Homo sapiens: one gene and its partners. The protein of the gene in region 6 interacts with the protein of the main gene of each other region in a biochemical or structural test. Each region holds a gene or a part of one and is shown on either strand. Other genes may lie near its edges. The genes, in order: MAST2, SLCO1C1, MARCHF3, GPRC6A, CNKSR2, LNX1 and PTH1R.

What was found.
Region 1: the proteins of LNX1 (region 6) and MAST2 interact in a test that uses a peptide from one of them, tested with the Homo sapiens proteins (one large-scale study listed by IntAct).
Region 2: the proteins of LNX1 (region 6) and SLCO1C1 interact in a test that uses a peptide from one of them, tested with the Homo sapiens proteins (one large-scale study listed by IntAct).
Region 3: the proteins of LNX1 (region 6) and MARCHF3 interact in a test that uses a peptide from one of them, tested with the Homo sapiens proteins (one large-scale study listed by IntAct).
Region 4: the proteins of LNX1 (region 6) and GPRC6A interact in a test that uses a peptide from one of them, tested with the Homo sapiens proteins (one large-scale study listed by IntAct).
Region 5: the proteins of LNX1 (region 6) and CNKSR2 interact in a test that uses a peptide from one of them, tested with the Homo sapiens proteins (one large-scale study listed by IntAct).
Region 7: the proteins of LNX1 (region 6) and PTH1R interact in a test that uses a peptide from one of them, tested with the Homo sapiens proteins (one large-scale study listed by IntAct).

Annotation. Positions count from the first base shown.
Region 1 is NC_000001.11:46,020,112-46,023,611, reverse strand, and holds part of MAST2 (microtubule-associated serine/threonine-protein kinase 2), read right to left. Parts: intron 1,663-3,500; coding exon 1,530-1,662; intron 703-1,529; coding exon 641-702; intron 380-640; coding exon 294-379; intron 1-293. UniProt on the Homo sapiens protein: Appears to link the dystrophin/utrophin network with microtubule filaments via the syntrophins. Phosphorylation of DMD or UTRN may modulate their affinities for associated proteins. Functions in a multi-protein complex in spermatid maturation.
Region 2 is NC_000012.12:20,733,332-20,736,831, reverse strand, and holds part of SLCO1C1 (solute carrier organic anion transporter family member 1C1), read right to left. Parts: intron 1-3,500. UniProt on the Homo sapiens protein: Mediates the Na(+)-independent high affinity transport of organic anions such as the thyroid hormones L-thyroxine (T4), L-thyroxine sulfate (T4S), and 3,3',5'-triiodo-L-thyronine (reverse T3, rT3) at the plasma membrane.
Region 3 is NC_000005.10:126,873,559-126,877,058, reverse strand, and holds part of MARCHF3 (E3 ubiquitin-protein ligase MARCHF3), read left to right. Parts: intron 1-3,500. UniProt on the Homo sapiens protein: E3 ubiquitin-protein ligase which may be involved in endosomal trafficking. E3 ubiquitin ligases accept ubiquitin from an E2 ubiquitin-conjugating enzyme in the form of a thioester and then directly transfer the ubiquitin to targeted substrates.
Region 4 is NC_000006.12:116,791,585-116,794,834, forward strand, and holds the end of GPRC6A (G-protein coupled receptor family C group 6 member A isoform 1 precursor), read right to left. Parts: intron 2,945-3,250; coding exon of another isoform or gene 2,940-2,944; exon of another isoform or gene 2,632-2,939; intron 1,667-2,631; coding exon 558-1,666; 3' UTR 501-557; downstream 1-500. UniProt on the Homo sapiens protein: Receptor activated by multiple ligands, including osteocalcin (BGLAP), basic amino acids, and various cations. Activated by amino acids with a preference for basic amino acids such as L-Lys, L-Arg and L-ornithine but also by small and polar amino acids.
Region 5 is NC_000023.11:21,372,948-21,377,222, reverse strand, and holds the start of CNKSR2 (connector enhancer of kinase suppressor of ras 2), read right to left. Parts: upstream 2,801-4,275; 5' UTR 2,326-2,800; coding exon 2,262-2,325; intron 1-2,261. Other genes in the region: uncharacterized protein LOC105373146, read left to right, coding at 2,801-3,240.
Region 6 is NC_000004.12:53,479,987-53,483,486, reverse strand, and holds part of LNX1 (E3 ubiquitin-protein ligase LNX), read left to right. Parts: intron 1-1,632; coding exon 1,633-1,767; intron 1,768-3,500.
Region 7 is NC_000003.12:46,887,721-46,891,220, reverse strand, and holds part of PTH1R (parathyroid hormone/parathyroid hormone-related peptide receptor precursor), read right to left. Parts: intron 1-3,500.

The DNA of each region.
Region 1 (3,500 bases), on a different chromosome or scaffold from region 6:
AACTCTTAAACTTCTTGATAGACCATGTCCTGATGACACGGCTCAATGCTTCCCCAGAGCTCAGGGAATGGAGGATGCGTGGTAGTAAGAGGCGTGGGAATCTTGTCTGGGAAAGGAACAATGATCGGATGTCAGAGGAATCTGAACTCCTGCCCACCCAGGAGGCTTCTGGGAGTGAGAAGGTCCACCCCGAGGCATCTGCCCAGAGGACTGGGCAGCATACACTCTCACATGGAAGAGATCAAAGGCTGACCCGGCTTCAGTCCTGGCCACACCCTGACCCCTGCCTTTACCCATAGGCGCCATTGCTGATGAGCTTAATGGTCTCGAAGTCCTCTTCAGAGGGTGTCTTTTTAGATGGCAGAGATGCCCCATGGCCCTGGAAGACAAGGGAAAAGGCAGGAGACAGGCATGCTTCTCAGAGCCCATATCCTTGCAGAAGCTGTGGCTCTAGCATCTTCTCAGCTGTCAGCTCTAGTGCAGTCTCCTGCTCATTCTTCTGGGAGTAGAATGACTTCTCAGTGTTTGCTGTCACCAACTCCCCCATCCCTTCCTCAGATATTCTCTTAAAGAGAATTCATAGCTCTTTGCTTCATAGGGCCCAGGCTCCAGGAATGGGGTAGGAGCTCAGGGTTTTTACCTCAATAGAATCATCTGTCTCTGGAGTGTCAGGACTGTCACAGCTGCTCAACTGGGCCATTTCTGGAAACAAAGATACAAGAGAAGAATGTGCGTGGCAATGTCAGGTATCTCAGCAGTATCCTCAGATCACACAACAGGTGCATGTAGGGTAGTCATTAATGCTTTTTGCATCAGCCTAGGATGTGAATTCAGTCCCATGGCACTATACCCAATGTAGTCCCAGCTTTTGGATCAGGAAACAAGCCAAATCCTACTGCTACTCCCATTTCCAGAAGTCCATTGCCATTCACAGGGCCTGGCAAATTCTATAAACTGGGGACATTTCCTGGAAAACAGGGCCTGAAACTGGGTTACTAGTTCCCATCCTGCTGGCCAAGACTGCTTCACTGGATGGGGCTGGGAAGCACAGAAGGCAGGAGCAGGATACCTACAGACCAGGGACTTGGAAGCCCATGGTTGCTGCAGGGGTTCAGCAGGAAGCCCAGAAGAATGGCAGTATCCTCTGAAGCCCTGTGTTGGACTACCCCAAAGACACAGGAAGACCTGTAAGGTGGCCAAGAGTAGAGGCAAGTTGCAGAGGAGGTGACCATTTTTGCAAATGTGATTGTGGCCCTTTGTTGTTGACCTCTTTGGAACTGAGGTTCTAAATGCAACTCAGCCGGGCCAATGCAATCCAGGTTGGGATCTATCAGGCAGATGTGAACAGCAGTTCCAAAGTAAAGACTGTTTTGTCACAGAGATCACAGGGTATCTCCTAAAATCCTGAGGCCCCCGGGGCCATGTTGTGTCCATGTCCAAGCTAAGTCTCTTTTCCAAGCAGCTTCCCTGCTGTTAGAGCTTGCCAGCAGCAGTGGGGCCTCTTTGCAGCCACTAGGCAGCATGCTCACCTTCTAGGGGATCCCGGGTGAGGCCCAGCTGGCTAACGATGTAGCGGGGAATGTCACATTTAATCCCTTGTCCCTCTTTGGCGTGGCCCTCAGCTGCTTCTAAAAGGTGGTAGAACTCTTCAGGGTCAAACTCCTGTACCAAGGGAGAGAGATAGTCAGTGGTGACAGATATAAGCGAAAGCTGCTGGCATCTTTGGTTTTACAGCATATAGTAGACTGAGATGAACAAGACTTTCTCTGTGATAGGACACTCCCACCCCTGAATATTCAGAAACAACATGATTCAGGGATCACAGGAATGGGGACAAAGATGTCTTACAGGTCACCTCCAGATTGGACATGCTAAGCATATGCTGTCTTCCTGGCAGTAAGAACTAGAGGTTTTACTCTAAAGAGAGCTCAGCCTATTGATCTGGTCCCATGCTTTCCATCAGCCAGGTGGCACTGTCTGGTGTATTCAGATGCCCAGTCCACAGCTGTCCTGGCACACACTCAATTATGGCTCACAAGAGCTTTGGCAAAGCCCTACTGGTGCATGTATACCTTCAAATATTTACTGGGCACCTCCTATGTGCTAGAGGCTGGAAATCCATTGAAAAGCACAATCCTTGTCTGCACATAATAACTGAGTGCCTACTAAGTGCCACACACTGGGTTAAACCCTCTAGCAACTCTTTGACCTCACTGAGGAAATCAAGGCTTTCAGGGATGCACTGATTTGTCCATAATCACAGTAGTAGGAAGGAACAGAAAACCAGCATTCAGCCCAGGTCTGACTCCAAGCCCCTGCTTAGCCAAGGACTTCATGTTCCTGAGGGAGAGGCTCTCTGCTCTATCACAGCATAGCCTCTGCCCTGAACTCTGTTCTCATTCCCTGTGGCCTCACTGTTTTGGAGAACTGTACCTATCTGGATATAACCTACGCCAGACCTGGAAGTCCTTTTAACTTCTTATCCTTCCTTAGCTCCTATTTGGTCAGAATGTCTCTCTCATAAATACCCCTCTAATCCACCTCTTTCTCTCTATTATCCTACCATTCACTGTCTGAGTTCTGGCCACCCCATCTCACATGAATTTGCTTTGAGTACCTCTCCCCTGATGTCCCTGGCTCATCCTGCCCTCTCTTCCAATTCACTATCCATGTTGCAGCCAAAGTAATCTTTCTTAGGACTAAATCTGATGTAATATTTACACAGAAATAAATAGGAACCAATTACTGATACATGCAACAACATGTATGAATTTCTACAAACATGCTGAGTGAAAGAATTCAGAACATACTACAGAAACCACACAGAAACATGGTTTCATTTCTAGGAAACTGTACAAAAGGCAAACCCATCCCTAGTGAAACAAAGCAGTTAAGTTATTGTCTGGGAGCAGGAGGAAGAGAGGACTGACTTCAAAGGGGCACAAGGGAACTTATATGACAGAAATATTCTCTATGTCAGCTGTGGCCACGATTCTACAAGTGTGTATTTGTTAAATCTCAATGAACTGTACCATCAAAGGGATATATTTTATTGTATGAAAATTATACCTTAATAATATTTTTTAAGAAAAAAGTAAATGCGGCCATGTCACATTCTTACCTAAACTTTCTGGTGTCTCCAAGTGGCCGTAAGGGTAATGAAAAACTCCAGAGCCGAGAACCCGACACCCTCCATGACCCTGTCACAGCCTACCTTCCAGGCTTACCCCTCAGCACTTCTTCAAACCCACCCTGTGCCCCACTGAATGCTCCTTCCCATGCTCCCGATCTGGGAAACTTAGACTCATCCTTCAGTTTGCTGAATAAGCCTCACGTCCCCCAGGGAGCATTCACTGAATGTTCCTTCCAGGGAAGACTAAAGCACTTCCTTTTCCAGGTTCCCGTTACGCTGTGTACTGACCTCAACTGCAACACTTCTTGCAGTATTGTAATTACTATTTACATGTCCTCATGCCTCATGCTTCCCAACTCCACTGTAG
Region 2 (3,500 bases), on a different chromosome or scaffold from region 6:
TAATATACTTCTGTGCAAAGGTGTATAAAAATAGCTAACAAGGTAGAAAAGTAAACTTTTAGAGCAATTTATGACACTACTTCAATGCATCACAGGTGGGGTGTGTGTGTGTGTTGTGTGTGTGCAAATTTCATTCAGAATTGTTGTCTAAGTATGAGTGGAATGGATATTACTAATGGTCCAGTAAAAGGAAAAATAGCCAATCAGTTATCAGTTAATTCTCTTTCAGTGTTTGCAGGAGTTACATGTCCTCTTGCATGTGTGTAACCAACAAGTGCATTCCCAGTTCATTCAACCTTTCTCCTGTGTATCCTCCCAGTGTATAGTGCTCTTTCATATCTTATAGCATCCTTTCTTACTCAAATTCACAAGTAAGTTCAATGACTTACCCATTTATTTGTTGATAAAATTTTACTGGAAGCCTACTAAGTGCTAGCTCCGGGAGAATAGGAGATGGTTACAAACATTAATGAGACAAAATTTGCACCCCCCCCCAAAATTGGTTTTTTTGAGTTATTTCACAAAATTGTGATTGCATTCTTTCTTTTCTCCTTCATTTTTTTTTGTTCTCTGCCATTCGCTTTTATATTTATCCTTCATCTCTCCCAGTATTCTCTCTCCCTCACTTTTTTTTCTGTCACCTGAATGGCCTAATCCTTCTGCTTTTATCCTTTTTTTTGCTATTCATATTCCTCTACTCTTCTCAAAAGGAACTTTTGCAATGGTATGTCATTTCTATCTGCACCATATGTGCCATTCATTGGCCCTCCATACTTCATTTTTTCTGCTCCTTATTTTCAAATTTATTTATTTGCTTATTCCTCATATCTTTCCTCCCATTTTTTATAAAGATAGCTGAGGAGCTTAAACAAACAAAAAATACACTGAACTGTACAATCAAGAGAGGCAGGAACTATTTTTGTATTCACTCCCATATGTCCAGAACCAGGAATAATTCCTGTCACACAGCAAGCTAAGAAACAAAATTTCCAGTAAGTTAGTCAATTAAAAAATGGTACTTTATTTTGGAGAAATAAATTAATCACTTGAGCCTCTGCCTCTGAGAAGTATTGTCATTAATGATGGCAACCATAATTTCTTAATCAGTGTAATACTTCATCTAGTAGAACTGGTATGATGAATTTTGTCACCTCAAAAGTACAAACCAAAGACCTCTGAGATGTCTCCAAATAGTGTGAAAGGGTACTGAACTAGGCCTTCTGAGATGTGCTATAGGAATGTTTAATCCTATTCTCTTCCATAAAATTTTAATTGTTAACTGAGACTGTTTGTATTATCTGAAAGTATAAAACTGCCTTTTAAAGTCTAGAATCATTTAACTCTGGAAACTGTAGGGCTGAGATTATAGAAGGTTGGAGCTGGAGGGAACATTGGAGTAATCTATGCCAACCTCTTACTTGGCAGATCAAGGAAGTCAGCCCCTACGTGGGTGGGTAACATGCTCAAATTCACACTGCTTGCTAGTGACAAACCTGGAAACTGAACCCTGCCAGGTTTCTTGATTGTAAATTCTTATGTCCACATCAGAGTTGTCCTTGTTATTGCAGAAGAGAGATTTCTTCCATTATCATATCTAAGACTTGTCTTCAGTTTTCCTATTGAATATTCAGGTCAAGACAGCGTTTGGAATAAAGCAACATGGAAAAACCCATGGGAAACATTTTATATTTTATAAAGAAAAATACTTTATAGTATTGAAAGTTTAATTTATCATCAGGGGCAGGAATCATTGGGATACATCTTTTCTGAAGGATGTGCTGACAGTAGATTTGTAATTTAGAATTTTAATTATAAGACGAGTTTTAACAAATATGCCAGAATGTTTATGCCCAAATGAGATTTCCTTTCAAGATAGTTATGCTGAAAGATGAGAGCTTTTCCTTAAAGGTTAAATCTTTGCCCTTGTTAAGAATATTCTCAAAAATATACAAAGAAATTCAAAATAAGAGTCTTAGAATATTTTAAACAACAGTAGCATTACTGCAATACAATTATAGTCTTTCAAGGTGACTCCTTTGAAGAGGCTAGTACTCACTCAATGAAAATGTTACCTTTTATTTGTTTAAAATATTTAATCTTTGATTATGTAGGAATACTTTTAATGGGAATCTCAAAGTTTGCTTTTGTTGTCTGCTTTGTGTTTACTTTTGGCTTAGAAATTATGATGCAGAAAGAATGTTCTACTTTGAGTCACGCCTGTGTTCAAACCCCAGATCCATGCAGTTTCTTTTAAACAAGGATAACAAAACTAAACTCATAAAGGTGTTTTGAGGATATAATGAGATCATGAAAGTTAAGGTGTTTTGGAAATCACAAACTATAAAGTCCTCTACAACTGTCCCTCTACCGTGAGGATTTCTGGGACAGTTAAAGATGGCACTGGGCTTCTGCTCTCTCCAGAATCATCTTCCATTTCATTGTTACAACTAACATTCTTAATCCATATCACTGACTTTCACTAAGGCAGCACTACACTCAGCTGAGTCTAACAATGTGGCTGTGATAACTCCCAGAAGCCGTAATTTATGAACTTTGCATTCACCAATCTTCCTGAACATTGTAGATGGCCAAAACTATAACAGGCGCTCATTTAGCAGCAGATGAAACCAGGTTAATAAAGGTGATGGAAGTTGGAACATAGAGACAAGACAGATAAGCAGGGAAGCAAGAGTAGGACGGGAGATGGACAGCAGGCTGTAAGCAAGAAGCCACAGAATAGGCAGGAAACAGAATATAGTGTCAGGAGTGTTTGCTTTTGAGCCACAGGCAGAGTTTCAGGTGGCCAGGCAGATACAGTTGGGAAGGCCTTCCTGGCACATGATGGAGACTCGATAATTTTTTTAGAAAACAAATAATGCATATATAGGTGAAATGATGAAGAAAGTTACCTCTGGAAATTCATGTGAAGTGGTAGAGTGATGGGAAAGACTCTCAATGGGCAAGGGCAATATAGTTCCTACAAGATTCAACCTTGTATTGAGAGAGACTCTGGAAACCAAGCAATGTAATCACCCACCCCATACAAGATGAGAGGCCTGAAGGCATCACTAAATATTCTCCTGACCAATTGCAAGACACTCAGCTAAAGAGAACTTTTATGGGGAACACTGGGTTGAAGGACAGGCGTTGTTTCCTGAAACTTTACATGATTCAAGCACAACAGCAACTATGGAGGATTGCAAAGAGGTAACTCCAGTTCCTCAGATGTTCAAAGGAGGAAGAAAACAATTGTTTCCATGAATGGCACATTTAGCTTGTGTCAGGCAAGTAGCATTCACTTTCATGTATGTTAGCTTGCTTAAACCTTACAAAAGTTTAAAAGGTAGTTATTACTTCTGTTTTTAAGATGGGAAAATTGAAGTTGGATTAGTTTAAACCACATGTACATCATTTCATTAAGAATAGACAGAGGCATTATTCAAGGTTTGTATTTCTGCTATCATGTTGTTTTTCTAAATTAATCAGGTTGGTTCTCTAGT
Region 3 (3,500 bases), on a different chromosome or scaffold from region 6:
TAATGCTAAGAACTTATCTGAGTCTTATGGTTAATTTAGACATTCTGTTCCCAGGCTAGTGAAGCCCCAAGCAAAACTATTATTGCTTCCTTTAGAAGTCTACGCTTCCAGCTGGGCGCGGTGGCTCATGCCTGTAATCCCAGCACTTTGGGAGGCTGAGGCGGGCGGATCACTTGAGGTCAGAAGTTCGAGACCAGCCTGGCCAACATGGCGAAACCCTGTCTCTACTAAAAATACAAAAATTAGCTGGGCATCGTGGTGCATGTCTGTAATACTAGCTATTTGGGAGGCCAAGGCAGGAGAATTGCTTGAACCTAGAAGGCAGAGTTGCACTGAGCCAAGATCGTGCCACTGTACTCCAGCCTTGGTGACAGAGTGAGACTCCATCTCAAAAAAAAAAAAGTCTACGCTTCCAAAGTTCATCCTGGTTCATTTTGAATCAGGCAACGAAGCTGTTCCAGTAGCTTCCATTGTGATGGGAGGAGGGTTAGAAATAAGAAATGAAGGAGTCTAAGCAGCACTATCTAACTCCTGGTCAACAGCACCACCCTGGGAAAGTCATTTGGCTTCTGTGAGGCTCAGTGTCCTCATCTGTCAAGTGGAAATAGTGGTAATGCCCATCCTGCCAAATTCCCCTGGTGTTATGAGATTTAAGTCAAAGTGTTTATGGGAAAGTACTTTGGAGAATAATATAAGTTCTTGCCATGTTTAGAGGTTTTCTAGTCTATAATTTTTTTTAGAAGAGTGCCTATGATGAAGGATGGATGAAGTGAGCTTAAATGCTGGGCTTTCAAAACCAATGTAAGGCCTTTCTGAAATCCTGCTTTGTAAAGCATACACTTATCTAACAAGAAAGAAACAGGGTGATAGGTGGCTGGAAAAGAAGGAAGAAAGGAAGAAAAGAAAGGTTATCTCAAGAAAAAATGGATGTGACCTCGTTTCATCTCCCATCTCAGGTGAAAGGAAGGTTTGGGTAGAAAAGGTACCTAGACTAGGCTCTTTCAGGAAAATGGTAACATACTTCATTCCAGAAATGTTTCTCACGGGCAGTGCTATGCATGCGTTTAGAATCCAAGGGCCCTGTGTTTAAACCCAAGATTTATCACCCTAATAACAGTGTAAATTCAAATAGGATACTTAACCTCTCTGTTCATCCTTCCTCTTGTACAAAAAAATACAGGAAATAATTGATAACCGCTAGGTCAATCGGTTATTGCAAAGAGTAAGTGAGATAACGTCTGAGAACATACATGCAAGCACCTAGCAGAGTGTTGGCCCCAGGCTCCTTCCTGCGGCTTCCCTGCTCCCCCAGCTTCCACCCTCCCCCTGCCCTTTATAGAATGCAAAGTAGCAGGAGGGAAAGAAGGCATCTCTCCCCCTTTGACTGGTGTGAAAAACGTGCTGTGGAGTCAGCTCAGCAATAGGTTACTGAATATAGAATAACTCCGTCCCAGATAAATGCTGTGCTGAGCGGCCCTGGCAAGAGCCGTAATTCAGAAGCTGACAGCACTTGGAAACTGCCCTGCGGCAGAAACCCATTGTAAACAAGCTGTCAAGCTTAAGGAGAATATGCTGTGAAAATGTCTTAGATAAACAAACACGGTGTCAGTCCAAGCCTGGCTCCTCAGAGGAGCCGTTCCTGGAAGGGCCTCCCTGGTACTGTGAAGAAGGACAAGCGCTCACGCTGCACGCCTCAGAGTGCCTTGGAGTTTCTCGCAGGCACACGTGGCCATGCAGGTCCAGCCTTGACACACCCTCATGGAGTCCCACCTTCTGGAACCTGCTGTGTTCCAGAAGCACACCTGGGCCCCAGGAGGCCAGGGCCTTGGTCAGCTCCACCCTAAGAGCTCAGGGAGAGGTGTCCTAGAAACATCACTGTCCATGTCACAAGTGATTTGAAACCCGTAGACAGACACAAAGAGAGCTGGCTGAGAACTGAGTCCACATTAAACATGAAGAAATTGTCGGTAATGGACTTGGTATCAGCCCCAGTTTGGAGTTTGGAGGAGAATTGAGGCACCATGTACAGGAAGTCTTTCCACTCACTGCATCACTGATGCAACCAGTGTCCAGCACAGAAGGGAATGAATGAGCGACCCGGTTCCTCAAAGTGTGACTCCCAGTCCCAAGGTTTGATTGTTTAAATTCTTCTTATAAAGGGGGAACTGCCAATGGAACGCTGTCCCAACAAGGCTCACTGTGGGGCTGCTTTAGACACATCCCCCACACGGCCTACAAGCATCCTGAGGGTATTCAGCGGTATTTCCCCATGACCAATTCACTCCTATACTCCTTTTCCCCAGTGCAGTCAGAGATAGATAGGTGAGCTGGGCACATTGCTGAGGAGGCCGTTTGCCAAGGCCTAGTCCCATCGATATCCCTAAGTCACACCACTTCCAGAGAGAAAGGGCAAAATCAAAATATGTAATCAGATATCCCAAAGCCTTCTGTGACTTTTTTTTTTTTTTTTTTGAGAGGGAGTTTCGCTCTTGTTGCCCAGGCTGCAGTGCAGTGGTGTGAGCCGAGATCACCGCAACCTCCGCCTCCCAGGTTCAAGCGATTCTCCTGCTTCAGCCTCCCAAGTAGCTGGGATTACAGGCATGTGCCACCACGCCCAGCTAATTTTGTATTTTTAGTAGAGACGGGGTTTCTCCATGTTGGTCAGGCAGTCTCAAACTCCCAACCTCAGGTGATCTGCCTGCCTCGGCCTCCCAAAGTGCTGGGATTACAGGCATGAGCCACTGCACCAGGCCGCCTGCTGTGACTTTATAGCACACCTTTGCCCCAGCCGCAGTCACCTCCCTAATGGGAAGAGTGGATGCTAACATTTTCTAACCCTTCTCATAATATTCATGCGATCACAACTCTTTGTACAGCAGACTTGCCCATGATAGGAGGTTAGTTAGATGAATAAACTAGAAACTTCAGGAAGCGCATCCCATAAGGAGCAGTATTTTTATAATAGTGGCCCTATACTCTCTTCCTCCTCTCTCCTAAACTCAAAAATTTAAGAAATATCTAAGTGAAATTCCTAACATTATTGTTGGAGCATCTTTTTATGTTTTCTTTTTCCTCGCTGCCTTATTCTTCTTCTAAATTAGACCTCCTTTCTTTCCAATTATATTGCATTGCAGGGATGCAGTGTCTTGGAGCATCTAGAGAAGTAGCATTAACCCAGGGCAATGCAAACCTGTGGTCTCCTTGGCGTTGTGCTCAACTTGCCTTTATTTTCCCTGACAAAGAAGCATCTTCTTATGTTGCTTTCTTCTTATTAATTGAATTTGCCTGCAGACTGTAGTGATTAACCACAATTAAAATAGATTAATGTATAATAAGATCTCATCTGTTTGTCTACACAAGTGGGCTGAATTTTTTAATTTCCTGGCCATGGAACCAGGAGACCTGCTAAGTCGCTGACTCCCTGTGTTCCTTGAAGCAGTGCGTCTCAGGCTTGAATGCACATGCGGATCACCTGGGGGTCTTGTTAAAATGCACTCTCT
Region 4 (3,250 bases), on a different chromosome or scaffold from region 6:
CTATATACATTATAATCATAGACTTCCTCACACTGATTGAAGATGTTGATATGTGCCTGTTTCTCCTTGGATTTTGAGCTCCTTGAGATCATCAAAGACACCTTGCTGCTTTTGTACCTTGTTATTTAGCATATCAACTGGTTCATAGTAATTGCTCAAGTGCTTGTTCAACTACACTGAACAGTGGAAGAAAAGTAAAAATGCTCAAGAGAGGAGAATCCAAAGAGATTTGAGAAGAGGGTGTCGGGAATGGAGTAAGGATGACACATTACGGGACAACTTTGATTAGAAGAGAAGTCTTTAACGATGTGCCTAAGAGGAAGCAGGTAAAGATGGAGACCAATGAAAAAGGTAGGAAATGAAGGGAGCTTCAGGCTGAAGGCTCAATTCTATTTGTTAAATAGGTGATTGAACAGAGTGACTGTTCAACTAAAACTTGGTAAAGATGGTGGCAAGGAAATATATATGACATATTTGCTGGGAAAGTAAATTTATATCTTAGATGCAAAGACCCTGGAAACATTTTATTCTGGAATGTGGCATCTCCTAAGGCTTATTCATATACTTGACATTCTTTTTCGAGGCAAAGTTTTAGATACACTTGTGGCATTTTCCCTGCATATGTGTGCAAATGCTTGTGCCTGAAGATCTTTGCTTTTCTGCCAGGTTGCAGACTTGCCACTAGAGCTGGGATTGGTCATTGTGACATTGCCGCTCATGGAGTCCAGTGAAGCAGGACTCAGGGCAATGCTGCTCACACTATGGGAAGAATAACTGTAGATCATCTTGAGAAAGGCAGACTTTGTGTTAATCTCTTGCTTACAAATAATAACATAGCATTTGGGGATGAATGTGCAATACAGGATTCCATAGTTAGATATTAATATGACAATAATCTCCACAGCTGGTACATATTTGCCAAATGTGGTAGCATAGATAGGGATGAATGTGATCCAAGCTATGAAGTAAATGAGCATGCCAAATGTAATGAATTTGGCTTCATTGTAATTCTCATATTTGCCTTTGAAAGCAAATATGAAGCAAATGAAGGCCAGGATGGCAATGTAGCCCAGCATGGTGCCAAATGCAAGTATGGATCCCTCCTCACACTCCAGGATGATGACTCTGGGCAAGGAGACATTCACCTCTACAGTAGGTGCTGCAAAGATTAGCCAGAGTGTGCAAATGACAACCTGGATGCCCGTGCAAGTGAAGATAATAAGGATCGGTCTATAGAGGCACTTCAGAAATTTCTGTAATTTGGGATCAAAGCTGAAGGCTAGCAAAATTTTCAGAGACTTCGTCAAAATGCAGGAGATGCAAAGAGTAAAGCTCACTCCAAACATTGTCTGCCTGGTTTTACATGTGAAGTCTTGTGGTTCTCCAATGAAAAAGCTCGTGCTGGCAAAATTGAGGAAATGACAGAGAAGGATCACATAGCAGACTCTTAATCCCCCGGATGATTTCACAACAGGTGTGTTCAGGTTTCTTGTAAATATTATGCCAACAACCAGAACAAATATGATTCCCAGTAGGGAGAGAATCAGGAGTAGGATGGCCAAGGAGTCATTCCAGTTGAGATATTCCACTTCCTTTTCAAAGCACATAGTGCTCCTAACAGGGGCCCAGTGAGTTTTGTTGTTGCATAAAAGGCAGTGAGGCATATCTAAAAGACAGAGGAGACGCAGTTACATTGTCAACATTTAAACTAGGTGATAGTCCACAATACTACAAATGAGATTCGTCTTCTTTAATAGTTCTGACTAGAGAATAGATATAGATGATTGTTACATTGGTTACTTATTAAAATAAAACATGCTAAAACTCAAAGAAAGTGAGAGAGAAAGGGTAAAAGTGAGGAAAAAGGAAAAGAAAGAGAAAATAGAGAAAGAAAAAAAGCCAGCTGGATTGTGAATGTTTAGGAAATGAATATACTCAGAATAGATGCTAGCTTCTTATGCATTTGCTATTATAGATGATGGTTCCAGCACTCTTAAGAATAAGGTTTTGGAATCAGACGTAGCTTTTCTTATCTCTTCCACTTATAATTCCTGTAAACTTGAACAAACTAACTGAACTTTCTGAGCCTATTTCAGAATCTCCCATATCTCAAAAAATAATAAAATGAAAAGACTCTGCCGTATTGTGATGCCGTACTTAATGAGATAATAAATGTAAAATGCTTCACACAGACCATTACACATAGTAGACCCTCAATGTATGGGAGTTGCTATCGTGAATAAGGGTGCAGGTCTTTCAAAAGCAGAGGCAATATGGCTAGGTCACTCTGAAAGCTTGAAGTCTCTTTCTAAAAGTGAGATAATGCAAAATTGTAATCGATGGCAATTGATGAAGAATTAAAGTTTATTTTTTCTCCAAGTAGTGGGTAAATCAGAGCCTCTCACACTGTAAGTGTTAACTTTGAAAAGTATTTATGCTTATTCTGGCTGCAGGGCAGCACAAATACTTGATTTTAGAGTTTTGTCTCTAGAAGTGATATTACATTTGCTCCCCATTCCAGCCACCCAAAGTTGGTGAGTCTCAGCTGCAATCAAAGGGCCTCTGTCAGGGCATTCATCTGATGACACCCCACAGCCTGTACAACTCTTTAAAATTTTGTGTTCTCTTCTTTATTAACCTCAAAGTAAGGTTGTATTTCTGTTTATAAACTTCATGACCCTTCCAGCCTCCTCCTCTTTCCGAACTCTATTCCCCTAAAAAATCTGTTCTTTTCTGTTTGCCCTGTAACCACAGTTGCTAGTGTCTGTCATTTCATTCGTCCAGTGGACATTTAATGGCCTCATCTAGGTATGGGAGCTGTGTGTTAGAGAGATAGAGAGGAACAGCAGATGGTATCCTTTTAGGCTTTCCTAACTCCTAGCTTATCCTCCAAGTTGTCTTCAGTCTTCTACATTTCTCCATTTGTTCTTGGAAGCGACTTACCCTGTTACCAAAAGAAAACCCAGATACAGCCTTTAAAGGGTCCCGTACGTCTTTATGGAAAATAAATGTTACATACTCCTTGGTGTTTTTATTTCTCTCACTTGGAAGGTAGTTGCTAGTTACCATGTTGCCTGAAAAACTCCCTCGCTAATTATCTAATTTTTTAGGCAGTGGTATAGCATTTTTATTTATTGATAATTTAAATGCTCAATTCCACTAATATAAACATTATTAAACATACCAAGGAACGGGAAAATTTTAAATGTGAGATAATAAAATGCAGATACATATAAAGTTTTGATACTCT
Region 5 (4,275 bases), on a different chromosome or scaffold from region 6:
GAAATTTCAGCAGTAAGTAGTCTGGGATTTGAAATATACAGGTAATTATATCATTCATTCTCTTCCAGTCATATGTATACACGATACACAAACTATCTTGGCTACCCAATTGATCTTTTCAAATAGCTCTAAAATGCGTCACCAACAGGTATGAAAACAAGGTATTCGACTTACATTTAAAAAAAATTTTCAAATCACAGCTAACAATGTTAACCTAACTTCAAAGAAGCCACATTTTAGGCTGGAAAGATTTTTAAAGGACTGGTGTACTGGACAACTAATAATGTGTGTCAGAATAGGTGCATCATATATTCTACTTGCTTCAGTGGACCTAAACTATGGAGAGAGGGGAAACTGCAAGAATATAACTGGGAGGGTGGGAGGTGGAGACTGAGTATGCAGCACTCACTACAGGCATCATGGGAATTTGCGAAAGGTAGTCTATGAAGGTAATCAGACTCCCATGGAGCCAAGATAGCTTGTCTTTTAATATTTCAGCAACAGACTCAAACTAAAGTAACCTTTTAGACAAATTCAAAGAACGGGGTTTTAAGCATTGTTGCTTCCTGTATATACTCTGGCTCTTTCTTCCATCACTGAGAAACGGAGAAGGTGGAGAGTGAGGATAATTGGTGGGAATCTAAGATATTGGAATTTCAATAGCAAATACATAAAGAGAAAAAGCAGCAGCAAAGATGAGCCACTGCAGGACTTTGTCTTAGTCATCTTTATATCCCCCATGGCACCTTAGCACAATGCACTGCACACAGGGGTGCAGTCGATAAATAATGTATTAGGTTTAATTCAATTCACTCACATTTGTACTGCTTAGCAGTTACAAAGCAGTTTCCACATATTAGAAAAGAAAAGCAAAGTAAATGAGGAATAAAGGGGCAAGTAAGGGAATAAAAGGAAAGCAAAATAAAGAAAAATCCACAAGAATAAGCAAGCGGCCAAAAAGGCTGGGGAAAAGAATGAGCAAAAAAAATCAGTTTCTCCCTGTCACTCTCAATCCCTCCCAATCACCTCACCTTTCGTTCTAAATTATCTGGAGCTTAGAAAGTCTGACTGTTAAGTAAGCCCAAGAAGGGGCTCCTTCATCGTAGGAACGGGCATTTTCAGCGATAATAAGCCTTTGGTCCCTGACTGATCTACCTAGAGTTTGCTCAGGTATGACCTCGAGCAAAGCGCTAACATTTCCCAAGTGTGGCCACGCATCCTTTATTCCATTCCATCCCATCCATCCCCTCTTCAATTCCCAAAATCTTAGGGAAGAGTTGGGCCTGAGGATCCAAGGGGTTGGTGGGTGGGGGAGTCCTCTACAAGCCCCTTAACTCAGACAACAGAGGGAGGTAGTGAGACAGGAAAGCCCAGGGATCAGAAAAAAAGCTCACGTTTGCGATTAGGAGGGTGAGTGTCTATAACTGTGGTTATTATAAATCGCCAGGGACAAAAGGGGGAACCTTCAAGATGGAAGAAATGTGAAGGTACCTGAATGCGCATCACCTTACATCTGGCGTTGAGCCCTTAATAAAAAGCCGTGAGGTCCAAAACCTCGACTGGCTTGAAAGGGAGAAAGCAGAGAAGGCAAAGGATGCGAGGGGATGCGCTGGAGGCAGCCCAGAGACAGCAGCAAGGATGCTGTCCCAGGGGAAGCATGATGTCCTCACCCTCAAAGTAGCACATACCCCCACCCTGGGCATCCTCAGCCAAATCTGGGTGTGGGGGGATGCCAGGCTCCGAATGGGGGCGGCCGCGTCCTGACCCCATTATGTGGGCTAAAAGTTGCTTGGGAGAGTTGGCGCTGGGGAAGGCACCTGGCAAGGGCGGCCGCCGAGGGGGCGTCAGCTTTCCCAGGAACAAAGGGGCCAGGAAAGGGCGACCAGGGGAGCAGGTCCTGGGGGAGTCCACCCTGAGCTGGGAGATAAGGGTCGCCACGTCCTCCTGGCCCGGGGGCAGTAAGGGGAGAGGGGAGTACGCAAGATGCGCCGGTATTCTGCCTCCCGACTTCCTGCCTCCAACGGGGTGGCGCCCGCTGCCCTCTAGCTCTCTGGCCGCTCCGCGCCCCTCTAGCTGGAGACAAAAGGAGACCGGGGACCCCAGGCCCCTGCCAGTCCTGGAGGACCCCCGCCCCGACGCGTACGACGATCCGCCAGTGGAAGCCGCGGTGGCGGGCTCTGGCGCGGCGGGCGCCCCCTCCTAACCTCGCACTGGTGCCCCGCGCCCCAGTGCCGCCTCACCCTCCCCGCAGCGGGCATTACCTTTCATCCAGTCCACTACTTGACTCGGAGACCATTTGCTCACCGGTTCCATTATCAGAGCCATGGGTACGGGGTCGGTTCCGTGCAGAGCGCAGAGCTCAGACACAAAACGAACTCAGCAGCCCGAGCTGCTCTCAGGTGGGGTCCCTTGCTGGCCGCAGCCTCCCTGGGCGGGCGGCGCGGAGAAAGCGGCTTTTGTGTGTCGGGTCTCGCGGCTGTAACGTCTTTTAGCCAACCGCCGGCAGGAACGGCGACAGGGAGGTAAACGTGCAGGAGTCGTGGCTCCGCGCCGGGTCTGCTCAGTTCCCGCTAAGGCGGCGGCGGCGGCGGCTGCTGCTGCTGCTGCTGCTGCTGCTGCTGCTGCTGCCTCCGCCGCTCCGCTCCGGTCTCCGTCCCTAGGGAGCTTCAGTTCATAGCTTGAGTTGCTGAGGGGTCGCGTCGCCGAGGGAAGCAGCCTCTGCCGCACGCCCTCAGCCAACTTGCCCGCTCGCCTCACGCGCGGGAGTGAAGCCCCGAGCACGACTAGCTGCCCGGCGGAAATGACGAGGGGCCTCCTGCCACCCAAAATATCTCTCCGCAGCCCTCGGGTGCGGGGCGCGCGCGCCACGAGCCCCCCGCCCGCTCGCTGCCGCGCGGTCCCGCCCCCAGGGCCGACGGCAGGCGCGCGAGGCGCGTGCGCGTGCGCGTGCCGGCACGAGGCCGGAGCCCAGGGTCTGTCTGGCAGGCAGACAGGTGCCAGCAGCTCGCAGCCTGGCGTTCCCGCTCTGGGGGCCGTCCGGGAACAGAGGCGCGCGAAGTGCGCGTGCGCGGCGGCGGAGGCGGTGGCGGCGCGAGGCAGAGCCAGAGCCCGGGGTCGGTCAATCAGGTGCGGGCGGCTGGAGCATGGCTTTGTGAGGCCTCTGAGGGGACCCGGCGGTGGCGGCCACGGCGGGACGGGCCGCCCACCAGTTGAACTCCGACAGCTGAGGCGGCTGAGGAGGTATCCGCGGCCCCACCACCGAGGGGAGGGGGACACCACTGAGCGCGGGGCTTACAGCGAGAGCCCGGGCTTTCCTGGCTCTCGCTTTCGCCCTCGCCCTCCCCGCTGCTGAGTGGGCTCCGGAGGTGATTCCCGAGACCCGCGTACGCCTGCAGAGACGGAGGTGTGGACTGCCGTGGACGAGAACGGGGCTCCGCCTGCCAGAAGCGCAGCGATGATGAGGCAGGAGGGCTAGTGCTGTCGGATCTTCCCCGGGTGATGAGCGGGTCCTGGGAAGTCAGGCGTTGAGGCTGTCACCTGCCAGCTGCTGGTTGTGGTGATCCTGAGACAGGTTCTGCCCCAAGTACCATTTTAAAGGGCTCTGTTTCAGGTTTTGGGCCAACTCCTCTAAAGTACCTATTTTAGAGAAGTCATTTTGTGTTTGATATTCTTATATATTAATAAGAACCGAAGGGCAACAATGGGATTTAAAATGAGTGACAAATTGTAGACATGATTTTTCAAAACTCATTTTCTTCAAAAACCATACACAGGCTACTATGCAACGGTTAGTAAAATACAGTTTGCCTAATGAGGCTTCACTTTAAAAGACAAATATTCCTAGAGTGTAGATGCTAACTCTCTGCCACCGTTATAGGCGTTTTCTCTATCATTCTTAAATAGGTCCATTAAGTAAAAGAAACTTTTTAAATAAGCATTCCAGTAATGTCAATAGGTTTTGCCAGTTCCTATGGTAACCCATTTTCTCTAGTCCAATTTTATAAGATGCAGAAATGTCACGTTCTTTAACCGGCATGAGTTGACGACACCCTTCCCCCCCACACACACACACACAAACAGCTGAAACCACAGTAGTTAAAATATTGTGACGTTTTTAACTGCTGATTTCAATGCTAGTGATAGCGAACAAGTAAAATTTAAGATGGCCTGTATTTAGGCTTCTTTATTTTTCTAACTATCCAAACTTAGAAGTATATGCAGAATTTTGGAAAGACATTTAGAAAATTATCTAGACAAGCCTACATTCAGAGGACA
Region 6 (3,500 bases):
GAATGACCTGCAGCTCTGAAATCTCAATGGTCAGCAATTCTGGAATAATGGCCCATACTACCTGACACATGTGAAACTAATCTGTGGCAGAAAGACAATTTGTAAATGTATCATTGTATTTGTCTGCTCTCATGCTGCTATTAAAGACATACCCGAGAATGGGTCATTTATAAAGGTTTAATGAACTCACAGTTTTACATGGCTGGGGAGGCCTCTCAGTCATGGTGGAAGATGAAGGAAGAGCAAAGGGATGTCTTACATGGTGGCAGACAAGAGAGCCTGTGCAGGGGAACTCCCATTTATAAAATCATCAGATCTCGTGAGACTTACTATCTCGAGAACAGCATGGGAAAGACCCACCCCCATGAATCAGTTACCTCCTGCCAGGTCCCTCCGATGACATATGGGAATTATGGGAGCTACAATTCAAGGTGAAGTTTGACTGGGGACACAGTCAAACCATATCGATGATGTGGAGTGGACCTTTCCAATAAGTACTATATTTGCTATTCTGAATGCCTGTCCAAATATCAATGTACATAGCAGAGAGAATTAGCAGAGTAACTGGTAGTTCCATAAAAAATAAAGAAATCAAGGCAAATTACTCTTTTGCAGTTTTTTAAACATTTTGTATTTCAATAGCTTTAGGAATACACGTGGTTTTTGGTTACATGGATGCATTGTATGGTGGTGAAGTCTGAGATTTTAGTGCACCTGTCACCTGAATAGTGTACACTGTACCAAATAGGCAGTTTTTCATCCCTCACCCCACTCACCCTCCCCTTTTCTGAGTCTCCAAAGTCCATTATATTACTCTGCCTCTGCATCTCCAGAGCTAAGCTCCCACTTACAAGTGAGAACATGCAGTATTTGATTTTCCATTCCTCTGTTACTTCACTTAAAATAATGGCCTCCAGTTCCATCCAAGTTGCTGCAAAAGACATTTTTTCATTCTTTTTTGTGGCTGAGTAGTATTCCATGGTATATACATACCACATTTTCTTTATCTACCTATCAGTTGATGGGCACTTAAGTTGATTCCATGTCTTTGTGATTGTGAATTGAAGGTAAAGGATTTTGATTAGGTTGTACATATTAATGTATGAAGTCATCCCCATATTTCTAAAGTGCTAAACCTTTCCTATGCCCAAATATTTGCAAGTGTCAGGCTCAGGATTTCTCTTCCTGCAGTGGCAAGTTACTGCCATTAACTCCATCTCTTTTTCTTTACTGTGTACCATTGATCTTAGATCTTTGCTTTGGGCTGCTACTTTACACAGTGCACCTAATTCTATCTGGGAAGAACTTAGGGCATGGCTTGTGTGTGGTACAACCATTAATTAAAAATGAATTAGCAATATCTGATGATGCCTTTTCAAAGATTGGAAGGAACCAAACCTTCCCTAGTTTTCCCTTGGAGCAACATTTACTACCTGGTTTAAGGATAAAGGAAAGAGCTCTCATGCTCTTGGCAAATTACAAGATGGATAGTAACAAAAAAACCCAACAAACTAGAAATCATGTTTTGCCATAAAAAAATGGTATAATCAAAGTGATGTTTTTGTAAGCTCCTGGTGCTGAATGCAGTGGATGGAAACTGACAGTGGCTAATGCCTGTGTCTTCTTGCCCAGGCCAGTGAAAGACGTGTTCACCTCGTCGTGTCCCGCCAGGTTCGGCAGCGGAGCCCTGACATCTTTCAGGAAGCCGGCTGGAACAGCAATGGCAGCTGGTCCCCAGGGCCAGGGGAGAGGAGCAACACTCCCAAGGTGAGGCCTCTAGGGCAGGTCGCCTGCTCCTGCAAGGGGCTATTTCTTGGGAAGGCTGCTTGTTTTAACATGTCTAAGTGTCATCTCTGGACTTTTTTACTTAAAGAAACACTTTGACTTGTAAAACTAAAAGCCCAAAGTCCCATATTTAAGACTTGGAGAGATAACAGGTGTCTCCCATCCAAGCAGGAGAGAAGAAGGTGCAGGAAAGTTTTGAAACCTGATCATGCAGACCTCATACAGGGACCTGATTTCTAGCCTAAGCCAAATAAATGGCATGTTTTTACCAAGAGTCATCTTGTTTGAGGACTTATTTTATTCACTTTGAAATGAAGCAAGCAGTTTGCCTGGTTTCTGGCTTTTGAATTTTTCAGTCTGCCTAGAAATGAGTGATTTCCCCGCTACTTTTAGTTTTTGTTTGTGTTTGCCGAAGGGCCCAGGAAGATAATTTAAACACTTGAAGCTCATGTAACATTAGGGAGTGGTGGGGATTGGGGCAAACCAGAGAGCACATGTTATATGGCATTCAAATCCAGAAAACTCTAAAACACTGTGGATCTGTGGGTGGAATTCATTCTTCAGGCCACCAGTTTGCAGCCTCACTTTAAATGAAGTGACTCAGCCCAATTTGTACTTCTCTCTGTGGCTTCTATTAGAGGCAATGCCTTAACCTCTTCATTTGGATGCGTGTTTAAGCAACACAAACCTTGTTTAGTCCAAATTAAGAGTCCTATAGCTTTGGCTTGGCATCCTGTTGTGATGCTGATGAGCTTCTTTCAGTCATCTCTCCTGAGTTCTGGTTTCATGGCATCACTTGTAACTAAAAAAAATTCTTAAAGGTAGCTCATTCTTCTTGCAACAGAAAGTAGGGAATGCCCTTTTCTTTCTACGTCAATCTATATGTTGGTTGGAATAGCTTACAAATTGAGTTTTTGAGTAATATATAGAGAAACAATATTCAAATTTTTTATTTTGGAACATCTCTGCTTTATACTATGTTAATTACATAGCCTACAAGGTTATACACCCCTCCAGGTTCTCCAGCCAGCCAAGCCTCATAAATCCATAAATTACCTGTTTCTCTACAATAAGGAGTCTAGACAGACCAGATATATCCTGCTAAAACATTTTATGGATAAGGACTCCGTGATGTCTTTTTGCTAGTAAATGCTTAATGTTTAAATTTAACTGATCATCTTTATTAATGAAAAACTAGTTTATTAGCTTAATTAATTAATTGAAGTTTTTATCCAATTAACTAATTTTAGTTGAATTAACTAGAATACGTCATATTCTAAGTCATCAAATTATGGAGAAGGTAGCCTCCATCTGCACTGTGGTTTTAGAATTCCTTCCACCTCCTCATCATGAAAGAGCTGGGAGGATCTGGTCACATTTCTGCTGCAACCCTCTGTCATATGTCTTAATTCCTGGAAACGTGCAAACTGACTTAGTCGGAATTGTAATTATTTCCGTTTTAACTTATATTCTATCTGACTTCTGAAATATCCTCACAAAAAAGTAACATATTTAAAAAAACTGAGACATATATGGCTCTTTGATTATTTCAGTTTTTATATTCTTACTAAAATCTTGTTTGGTTTAGGAAACCAGGTAGCTTTTTAAAAATAAGAGCTTAAACAATTCAAAGAAATACCAAAGAAGACAAAGCAGGATTTGTGGGACAGAAAACTTTTAGCCAATTAAAAAAGTTAAGGAATGCTAGGCATCAA
Region 7 (3,500 bases), on a different chromosome or scaffold from region 6:
GAGAGGGAAAGATATGTGCTTCCAGCACGCATGACTCCCACACTCCTTCATTCATCCATAGGGGTGGTGGCCCCACCTCTGGCCTCCCTGAACTTTAGGACCTATTTATCTGTTAGCACAGCCATTGCAACAAGAATAACTCATGTTAAAGTTAAGGAAGCACTTTCCCAAGAAGAGGAGGACAACCCCACACCAAGTGCGCTACCCCTCCAAACGTTAGCTCACAGCTCCGTGCCTGGAATGCCCCCACTCCTGTTCACTCCTCCCTCCAGCTGTGCCCTCCTCTTCAAGGAGATTCTGCCACCAGCCCCACAATGTGAATCCCACCTCCACCCTTGACTAGCTTCGTGTCTGAGAAAGTTGCTTAACCCGTGTGCCTCAGTTTTCCTGTAAAATCAGGGTAATAATAGGGCTGTTGTTGGCCCGGCACGGTGGCTAACACCAGTAATCCCAGCACTTTGGGAGGCCAAACCAGGTGGATCACCTGAGGTCAGGAGTTCGAGACCAGCCTGACCAACATGGAGAAACCTTGTCTCTACTGAAAAATACAAAATTAGCTGGGTGTGGTGGTGCGCCTGTAATCCCAGCTACTCGGGAGGCCGAGGCAGCAGAATCGCTCAAACCTGGGAGCGGAGGTTCCAGTGAGCCGAGATCGCGCCATTGCACTCTAGCCTGGGCAACAAGAGCGAAACTCCATCTCAAAAAAAAAAAAAAAAAAAAAAAAGCTGCTGTGAAGATTAAATGAAGTACTTCACAACAAGCCTGTGCAGGGGTGAAGCTCAGGAAAAGCTGGTTGCTATTGTTGATACTGTGAGCAGCAGCAGCAGCAGCAAGTCACATCCCCGCCATGTGCACCCCTGCTGCCTGGTGACATGGGTGCTCCCAGCCAGGCCAGGGACCCAAGGTGGCTGGGGGAGATTATCTGGGTAGATGGCTGAGTCCAGCAGGTGACAGTGAGGGGCAGATGGGAGATGGGGCCCCAGGGTGGACTGGGGGCAGGGACTACAGGAGGACCTGCTAGATAAGGTGTTCCTGGCAAGCTTTTGGGATGGAAGAGTATCCCAATGGCTCCTTGCATTTCTGGATCCACTCTGGACTTACATTAGGATTCAAGGTTACTGCCAGAGGCCCCAAGCTTGAGCTTAGGAGGAAAAAGGACCCCCTCCTCTGCCTCTGCCCTGACTGAGGAGGCCTTATCTCCTGGGGATGAAGGGGAAATGCTGACAGCTGTATCTCTTCTCAGCCTGGCATGCCCCCTGTCTGCTACTCCCTTCTCCCCGCCCCTCCAACCCTCTCTCCCTTGAGGAGTTCCTGTCTTCTTGGCTCAGCGCCAGGGTGCAGAGGACTCAGGCTTGCGTCCCCTTAGATCCAGCGGATCTGCAGATCTTGGGTCTCAGGGGTGAGGACTGAGGGACTGGGGCTGGGCTGTGGCCAGGGGTCACTTAGTCCATACCCACCACTTACAGGCCACCCAGCCCTGCACCAGCTGTCCCATATCCCCCCAACACTCCTCCTATGGTCCTGATTAGGGCTGACTTGACTCCCCCAACCCAGCCATCATGGTGCTTGGCTTCAATACCCTCCACTGTAGCACATCCTCCCCATGGTCAGCAAGGAGCTTTAAAACCCATGCCTCCTGCACCTTCTACCACATCCCCATTTTACAGACAGGGACACTGAGGCCAAGAGTCACAGAAAGAGGAGGGCCAGGGATGGAGCTAAGATCTGCTTGACACTGAAGCAGCAGCCTTGGAAGAAGGGAAAGAGAGGAGGAAGTGCCCAGCCACACGGGTACCCTGGCACCAGCCACGGTATCATCTTTCCATAATCCTGGATTTTAGCTGCTACATTAAGCAAGTCTCCCTTTGCAGATCCCCTAAGGCAGCCTCCCCGAAGCCGATTTAGGAGCAGAGGTGTGTAGACATAAAGGTGCCGGTGATGCCAGTGATGGCGGCTTGTCCCCAGCTGTAACTGGGTAGAGGACAGTTGGGCTCTGGTGTTGGGAACCAGGCCGTTGATGCCTCCAGCACAGCCAGAAGGAGAAAACCCTGGCTAACAGGAGACCCCTTCATGACCTCCTGGCCTTCCTACAGCCCTCCTCCAGGTTCTACTACTGGGACCCATGCTGGCACCCCTGGATGTCTCCCGTGCCAGCTGGCTGGGACTGCTCCCCCACCCCTGCTGCCCTCTCTCTGTCCGGCTGGCCTGAGCAGGCTCCTCGTCCTGCCCCGCCACCGCTGACAAGTGCTGACTTTTCCTCCCCTTCGCCAGGCTTTCCTGAACAGGCTGCCTGTGTTTGGGGCTGGGAGGGGCTGGGGGGGAAGAGGCACTGTGACGCCTCTCATCCTGGCCAGCCAGCGTGGCCGCCTTCGGGGCAGGCAGTGGGATGCAGCCTGGGATAGCGGAGTTGGCTGCTACGACCTGGTGGATCTTCATAAGCAGGCCCTACTTGGGTTGAGGAATCAAGGCCCAGAAGAACAGTATGGCCTAATCTAAGCCATCGCCTGCTCAGCAGAATGGGATCCCACTAGGTCTCACCTCGGGCATAAGACTGGCCCCAGAGTTGGGGCTTTTAAGGGTTTGAAGGTCTCTGATGTTTCTGCAAACCTGAGCAAAAGTTTGCGCCCTTCTCCCAATCACACCGTATTTTGCAGACAATTTCAGAGGTCTGCAAAACCCTCGCCCCACCTTTTCTTTTTCCTGAGGACTCTCCTTCTGAAATAGCTGCCTTCCTGATGTGGTGGCTGGACCAGGGAGTGTCCCCAGAAGGCCCACAACAGGAATCTGAGGGAGGCTACTTGACGCCTCATTAAAACATTCCGAAGAAAACCCCAGTTCCTCGGAGGGCTCGGCACCCTCCTGCTGCTCTGTCCATAAGCCGTTTCAAGAGCTGAGGTGAATGTGTTTAAGAGCAGGTGATATAAAAAGCTTCAACAAATCAATACGAAAAAGACAAATAACCCATAGAATGATGGTTAATGGCCCCGAGCAAGCTCTCACTGTAAAGCCCAGAAGTCACTGGTAATCAGCAAATTAAAATGACAAGAGACACCATTTTCACCTATCCAAGCAAAGGTGAAACACAAAGAATCCTCTTAACATCCTATGAGACAGTGGGTGTGGGCAGAGAGGCCCTCCTGGTTGGTCTTGGTGTTGTATAAGTACAAAGCAGCACAAGCTTTTTAGAGGGCAATTTGGCCATGCTATTAAAATAAAAAATATGTATATTCTCAGGCCCAGCAATGACAAAATCTAGAAATATCCTACTAGGAAATAGTCACATGGGGACACTAGAGGGCATTTCAAGGAGCTTCCCTGCCACCATCTGGAATCACGCACATATAGACACACACACAAATTATGCAGAAATGATCTAAATGTACATTCCTATGGACTACTTAATGAGTCCCAGGTTTTGGAATACTATGCAGCATTTAAAAATATAGATTCATATTTACTGAAATGAAGATCTCTAAGACACACATTTACGTCAAAATATG